2 linked regions of the Homo sapiens genome follow. The protein of the gene in region 1 purifies or fractionates together with the protein of each later gene. This does not show direct contact. Each region holds a gene or a part of one and is shown on either strand. Other genes may lie near its edges.

Evidence for each region.
Region 2: the proteins of EML1 (region 1) and NEK9 purify together in Homo sapiens (affinity purification with mass spectrometry; one large-scale study listed by BioGRID and IntAct). This does not show direct contact.

The regions. Positions count from the first base shown.
Region 1 is NC_000014.9:99,911,608-99,915,431, reverse strand, and holds part of EML1 (echinoderm microtubule-associated protein-like 1), read right to left. Parts: intron 1,254-3,824; coding exon 1,128-1,253; intron 867-1,127; coding exon 735-866; intron 1-734. UniProt on the Homo sapiens protein: Modulates the assembly and organization of the microtubule cytoskeleton, and probably plays a role in regulating the orientation of the mitotic spindle and the orientation of the plane of cell division.
Region 2 is NC_000014.9:75,085,419-75,089,242, reverse strand, and holds part of NEK9 (serine/threonine-protein kinase Nek9), read left to right. Parts: intron 1-601; coding exon 602-763; intron 764-2,012; coding exon 2,013-2,225; intron 2,226-3,824.

The sequences.
Region 1 (3,824 bases):
TTTTTTTTTTTTTTTTTTTGAGACAGAATTTTGCTCTTGTTGCCCAGGCTGGAGTGCAATGGCGTGATCTTGGCTCACTGCAACCTCCACCTTCCGGGTTCAAGCAATTCTCCTGCCTCAGCCTTCCAAGGAGCTGGGAGTATAGGCATGCACCACCATGCCCGGCTAATTTTGTGTTTTTAGTAGAGACGGGGTTTCTCCATGTTGGTCAGGCTGGTCTCGAGCTCCCAACCTCAGGTGATCTGCCTGCCTTGGCCTCCCAAAGTGCTGGGATTACAGGCATGAGCCACCGTGCCCAGCTGACTTTCAAACGAAAGTTCACTTTACCATCAAACTCAAAATGTAGAGATATATTCAATCGTGTGTTTAGTACAGCTTGTAAATTCCCATTCAAAGGGTACACTGTAAATAGAATGCAGGCTCATAACAAGTATTTTTCAGCTCTTAGGATGGTTGAGAGACTGTACTCAGAAAATCTGACAATGAACTCAGAAAGAACAACTTCTTGTCAGAAAATTTCAACAGTAAACTTCAAAATTACATGGCTGAGGCCACGAGGCAATGTTAAAAGTAACACTGTTAAATGCAATTGCAATGTTAAGGCAACTCTAAATAGATAAATAACATTTGCTTTGGGACAACTTTGTATCACTGTTGATTTCATGCAAAAAATAAATAAACATGTTCCAGATGAATTTCTGTAAGAAAAATGGAAATGTAATGTGCATGTTTACCTCTATTATTTTGTCCCAGACGGGACGGTGACCCACAGCGTCCCAGAGAGTGGCATGCTTGTCATGCCCACAGGTCAAGAACTGAGATTTTGAGGCATGGATGGCCAGTCCCCAGAGCTCATCAGTGTGACCCTACAAATAACCAAGACAAACAGAAGCGCTCTGAGATACTACAGTTCGCACTCAGGAGCCGTAAGGGATGACGAACCGAGGCTTCATGCTGACTTCATAACTGCTCTCAACAGTTTCTCTCCTCCCATCTTTCAGCAGCCACAGACACTCTGGGGTGGAGGAAGGTTATCGTAGTATAAAGCACCTGATTGTAATGCTTGATTAGGGTCTGATATAATGCAAAATGAGAGTGTTTGCCGGGCCTGCTGAGTGGGATCGTACCTGAGTAATGGGTGTGAAGTCCCCTGACAGAGTGCCCTGCAGGACAAAGTTTCGAGTTGTGCCAATCAAGATCACATCGCCTTTCCCCTCGGCCACTGTCCGTATTGGACCAAACTGTTCTGGAATCTGCATTGAAAAGTCATATGAAAAGAAAAGATGTACAATTTCATTCAGTTGTTAGCTCAGTCATTCAAAACACTTATCATAATGATAGTCCCTATAACAGTTTTATATACACATATGTATATAATGTACGTTCAAATATATATGTTGTATATACATATATATGGAGAGTTTCACATAGATACCACAGCTGGCCAGGCTTGGTGGCTCATGCCTGTAATCCCAGCACGTTGGGAGGCTGAAGCAGGTGGATCACCTGAGGTCAGGAGTTGGAGACCAGCCTGGGCAACATGATGAAACCCCGTCTCTACTAAAAATACAAAAATTAGCTGGGCATGGTGGTGGGTGGCTGTAATCCCAGCTACTTGGGAGGCTGAGGCAGGAGAATCACTTGAACCCAGGAGGTGGAGGCTGCAGTGAGCCGAGATCACGCCACTACACTCCAGCCTGGGTGACAAGAGTGAAACTCCATCTCAAAAAAACAGATACCACAGCCAACTGTTGAGTGAGTGATCAAAACCCTAAGCCTTATTTTTAAACTACAAACATTTTATATATCTTAGAAGCATCAGCAAGAATGAGGTTAAGAAAAAGCATTTTCCTCAACAAAATTTAAAAATAAGGAATGCTACTGGTTAGTTTTCTCTTTACTTTTTACAATTTCTGATAGCAACAGTAGATACAATTCAGAAAGTAAAGAATATAGGCCAGGTGTGGTAGCTCACATCTGTAATCCCAGCACTTTGGGGGGCCGAGGTAGGTGGATTGCTTGAGCCCAGGAGTTCTAGACCAGCCTGGGCAATATAGCAAGACTCCATTTCTACCAAAAATACAAAAAAAATTAGCTGGGTATGGTGGTGCGTGTAGTAGCTGGAAAGCTACTCAAGAGGCTGAGGTGGGAGAATTACTTGAGCCTGGGAGGCAGAGGCTGAAGATCACGCCACTGCACTCCAGCCTGGGTGACAGAGCCAGACCCTGTCTGAAAATAATAATAATTAATAATAATAATAATAATAACACTGCCATAATACAACTTAAAATGGTAAGTTCTTTGGCAATGTCATTCTGTTCAGTTTAAAAATCGACATAAACATATGGAATAATCTAAATGTTAAGAGAAAGAATTGCAAAATACACCCATTAAGAACAATTTGCTATGATGAAGAAACAAAGTTCTTGTACTATAAAAAGAACAAATGCTGCAGCTTGACCCTGGCGGTTGCTGTTAGGCTCTCCCGTTCCAGGAAAGAAGCAGCCTCCCCTCACACATTCTCCAGTGTGGCATGTTAGCACAGATTTGAGTCAAGTTGATGATGACCCATGCTAATGAGGAAGAATCAGATACTAACAAACAGTGAATAGCTTTTATGAAATTAGATGGGGCTTTGGAGCTTTCTTTACAGTTATAATATGACTTGGGCATGTCTATGACTCTAGCAATTCACAATATGTTCAACCAAATGCTGGTCAAATCTTATTATTAAAAATGTTCTCACAACAGAATCTCCAGGCAAGGGGAAGTGATTTCCAAAGCTCAGATGAAGATCTTCCTTTATTAAGGGAAATAATCAACAGAACCAAATTTTCACACTGCCAGAGGGTGGTGCCATGTTGCTCTCTGATGTAAAATATAAGTGTTTTGTGTGTATCTGGGTTCAAAGTCCTAAAGTCTGTCCATTCTAAGCTAGGGATGAAAAGCATCACCCTTCAGAATGAGGCCAATTTTGCAGTGTCTGCTCACGATTTCCTGGAACCTGGGGGAGAAAATTCACTGAGTGGGCAGAAGGAATATTAAATATCTTGCCTCTGGTGCCTACCGGAATGCAGGGCTGCCAAGTAGATAATGGGGAGGTACACCGGGTATCAAAAGGAGTCACAGCCCTAGGGAGCACATTGGCACTTAGCTGAGGGCCATGTACGAAGTAGATACTCAACAAATACTAGTTCACTCAATGCAATAATGTCTCCAAAATAACATGCTAGAAATTAAAAATTAAAAGAGGCTGGGCGTGGTGGCTCATGCTTGTAATCCAGCACTTTGGGAGGCTGAGGTGGGAGGATCGCTTGAGCTCAGGAGTTCCAAACCAGCCTGGGCAACATCTCTACAAAATTACAAAAATTAGCCAGGTGTGGTGGTGTGTGTCTAAAGTCGCAGCTACTTGGGAGGCTGAGGTGGGAGGATCACTTGAGCCCAGGAGGGGGAGGTTGCAGTAAACTGTGATCACACCACTGCACTCCAGCCTGGGTGAGAGCCAGACCCTGCTCTAAAAAAAAAAAGAAAGAAAGAAAAAAAGAAAAAGAAAAAGTTAAAAGAGAAGACAGATTTTTATAATAAATCAAAATGTGGGTAACAGTCCCTTGGAAAATTGAGAATAAAAATATTCTAAATATGAAGTGTGTTACAACCTCAAGTTTTATAAACCTAATTCTATTTTATTAGTTATATTTAACCTGCCTCAGGATTTTAATAAAATACATTGCTCCCATATAATGTGATTTCACCTAAACAATTTTCAAAACTGTAAGATACAGATTTCAAACTAATAAAAAAAGGATAACAGTTTAAGGTTAAAA
Region 2 (3,824 bases), about 25 Mb from region 1:
AAATAATAATTAGCCGGGCATGGTGGCACATGCCTGTGGTCCTAGCTACTCAGGAGGCTGATGTGGAAGGATTATTTGAGTCCCAAAGGTCAGGACTACAGTGAGTCATGGTTGTGCCACTGCACTCCAGCCTGGGCAACAGAGCAAGACCCTGTTTCAAAAAAAAAAATCTGTAGGTTTAAAGCTCCCTGTCTAATAAGACTAAACTTGCTAGTGATTTGAGGAGCGTGAACAGAGGAAGCAGCATGCTGTTCTGTCTGCACCTTTAGCCTCAGCTTTCAGCAGTGTTGCAGCCAGCCTCACTGACACTTCCTTGGAGCGCCCCAGCTCACTGAATAGCCTGTGTAGAATAAGCGTGTTGGAGTGACACACCAGAAACTCCAGCCTGTGTTCTTTGAGTTTGCCTTTGCATCACTGTTTCTCTGATGAAGGGGTGGCAGTTTTTTCACAGGTAGGCTGTGATATGTTGTTAACCACAACTGTCTTGCCCACTAGAGGGTGCTGAAGTCATGAGAGAGGGAAAACTATAGCAAAAAGAAGGGAATTTGGGAGGAAGCAAATACTGCAAACAGACTAATGAGATTCTTTCTCATATACATAGGAGCTGGAAAATGCAGAATTTATCCCCATGCCTGACAGCCCATCTCCTCTCAGTGCAGCGTTTTCAGAATCTGAGAAAGATACCCTGCCCTATGAAGAGCTGCAAGGACTCAAAGTGGCCTCTGAAGCTCCTTTGGAACACAAACCCCAAGTAGAAGCCTCGGTAACTGAGCTTTTTGCCTTTGAATCACAACTAGGTAAACAGTCACTGCAAGCTCTGCCTGGTTCTTCTGGCCTCGCTCTAGCTTTTGGGTTTCAGCTGCCCTGCATCAACTCATTATACTGTCTATTCAGCAGTACTTAAAGCCTCAACCCAAGACTAAACTGAGTTGCCTCAGAAAGGTATTTACCCTTCCACATTTCTGACAGGCTAACACCTTTCTAAAGGGATTGTCTTTTCCCTCTGCCTCAGAAATACCAAAATTCAAATTCAGTTTTTCATGACACTGGCAGGGTAGGTTAGAGGCTCTAAATATAAGAAAGAAGTAATACTGGTAGTCTAGTGAGGAAGCAACACATGTACACCTAACCTTGGTAAAAATGACATTGTGGTAAATACCTCAGTAAAACTATAATCCAAGGTCATGAAACTTTTTCTATAAAAGGCTACATAATTATTTTAGACTTTTCCTATTAAAGGCCACATAGTAATTATTTTAGACCATTTTAGACAGAAATGTGTACAGCCTCTTTTGCAACTACTCAACTCTGACATTGTAGCACAAAAAGCAGCTTCAAGTAATACATAATGAATGGGCATCCTTGTGTTCCAATAAAATTGTATTTACAAAAACAGGCAGTGGGCCAGAATTGGCCTATGGGCTATTTGTTGAACCCTCCTATAAAAAAAGTACAGTAGAAAAGAGAAAAATCCAGACTAGGATCATCAGAAAGCTTCCCAGAAGAGGTAATAATACCTTTGAAACTTCAAGGTGAATGTTTTAATTTCTCTGTCAGTTCACCTTCTTAAATTGTGTTGGTGGTCCTGTTTACTGACCACCTCTCAGATCTTTTCTAAAGTGTGATTCACTGCATATCATGAATATTGACCCTTTGGGTCTGTGATCTGAAAGACTTGTTCCAAACCAAATCATGCTTTTCCCTACTTCAGCATTTTAAATGAGAAGATACCAAGGTGCTTTAAAATTTTTCACAAAGTCCTCCAAAATAGATGATTGGTCTCCCACCTTGGCCTAATGGGGACTGAGGCAGAGAGTTCACTTTCCATGTTATGTCAGTGCCCATCGCTGTTATAATCCTAGCATTTCTGTTTCTCGTACATATATTCATGTGTATATATGATTTATCTTGTTAATTTAAAAGTAAAATCCGATTGCACTTAGAGGAAGTTTGGATTGAGGAGCTATGACACCTGGGCAGAACCTCCTGCAATCTCCTTCTTGTCTCTCTAGTCACCTCGGCTGAATCCTGCAGTAACCTGTGCTGGGAAGGGAACACCACTGACTCCTCCTGCGTGTGCGTGCAGCTCTCTGCAGGTGGAGGTTGAGAGATTGCAGGGTCTGGTGTTAAAGTGTCTGGCTGAACAACAGAAGCTACAGCAAGAAAACCTCCAGATTTTTACCCAACTGCAGAAGTTGAACAAGAAATTAGAAGGAGGGCAGCAGGTGAGAGCATTAAAAGAATAATCCAATTTCTAAGCCTGTTTTGAAGAATCACAGAAACAAAACACAAAGTACTGAAATAGACTTGTTCCTTTGCAGGTCCTTACTTTTTTTTTGAGACGGAGTCTCGCTCTGTTGCCAGGCCAGAGTGCAGTGGTGCTATCTTGGCTTACTGCAACCTCCGCCTCCCGGATTCAAGCAATTCTCCTGCCTCAGCCTCCCGAGTAGCTGGGACTACAGGTGTGCACCACCATGCCCGGCTAATTTTGGTATTTTTAGTAGAGACAGGGTTTCACCGTGTTGGCCAGGATGGTCTCGATCACTTGACTTCATGATCCACCCGCCTCAGCCTCCCAAAGTGCTGGGATTACAGGTGTGAGCCACCACGCCTGGCCGATCCTTAGTTTTTAATGATACCATTTTTGTAATTATAATCCCAGAAGCCTTGGGCCTTGTTCAGGCACCTAGATTGAATCATTTTCATCACTTGCATTGCTTTTTCTTAGTGTATGTTTTTTCTTTTACAATACTTAATTACATACCTCTGAAAATAGACATTCTCCTGAACAACCACAATACTATAACCACACCTAAAAAAATTAATACTAGTATTGTCAATTCTCATCTAGTATCCAGCTGATACCTCAATTTTCCCAGTTTTCCCCCACAAAAATGTCCTTTATAACCATTTTTTATCAGACTAGAATCCAGTCAAGAATCCCACATTATATGTATGTCTCATTTCTTTTCATCTAAAACAGCTCCCTCCACCACCATCACCTTTTTTAAATTATTTTATTTTTATTTTTATTTTTATTTTTATTTTTATTTTTTGAGACAGTCTCACTCTGTTGCCCAGGCTGGAGTGCAGTGGCGTGATCTCGGCTTACTGCAACCTCCACCGCCCGGGTTCAAGTGATTCTTCTGCCTCAGCCTCCCGAGTAGCTGGGACTATAGACGCTTACCACCATGCCCAGCCAATTTTTGTATTTTTAGTAGAGATGGGATTTCACCATATTGGCCAGGCTGGTGTCAAACTCCTGACCTCGTGATCCACCTGCCTCGGCCTCCCAGAGTGCTAGGATTACAGGTGTGAGCCACTGCGCCAGGCCTTATTTATGTATTTATTTTGAGACAGGGTCTTGCATTGTCACCAAGGCTGGAGTGCAGTGGCACAAACATGGATCACTGCAGCCTTGACTTCCTAAGCTCAAGTGATTCTCTGACCTCAGCCCCCCAAGTAGCTGGAACTACAGGCATGTTCCACCATGCTCTGCTTCACCTTTTAAAAAAATACTTTTATGACATTGACTTGTTGAAGAAACCAGGGCAGTTGTTCAACAGAATGTCCCACATTCTAGATTTGTCTTGTTTTCTCAGGGTGTTGTCTAACTTGTTTTTCTGTCACCCTGTCTTTTCTGAAAACTGGAAGTTTAACCTAAGGCTTGATTAGATTCACATTAAACATTTTTAGTGAAAATACTTCAAAGGTGATGCTGCTTGCATTATTTTTCGAGAGCCATGCTATTGTTTTATATAGAGGGAAGTAGAAGCAGAGAAATAGGGTTAGGCCCTTGGCTTTGCCATTTGCCAGCTGTAGGT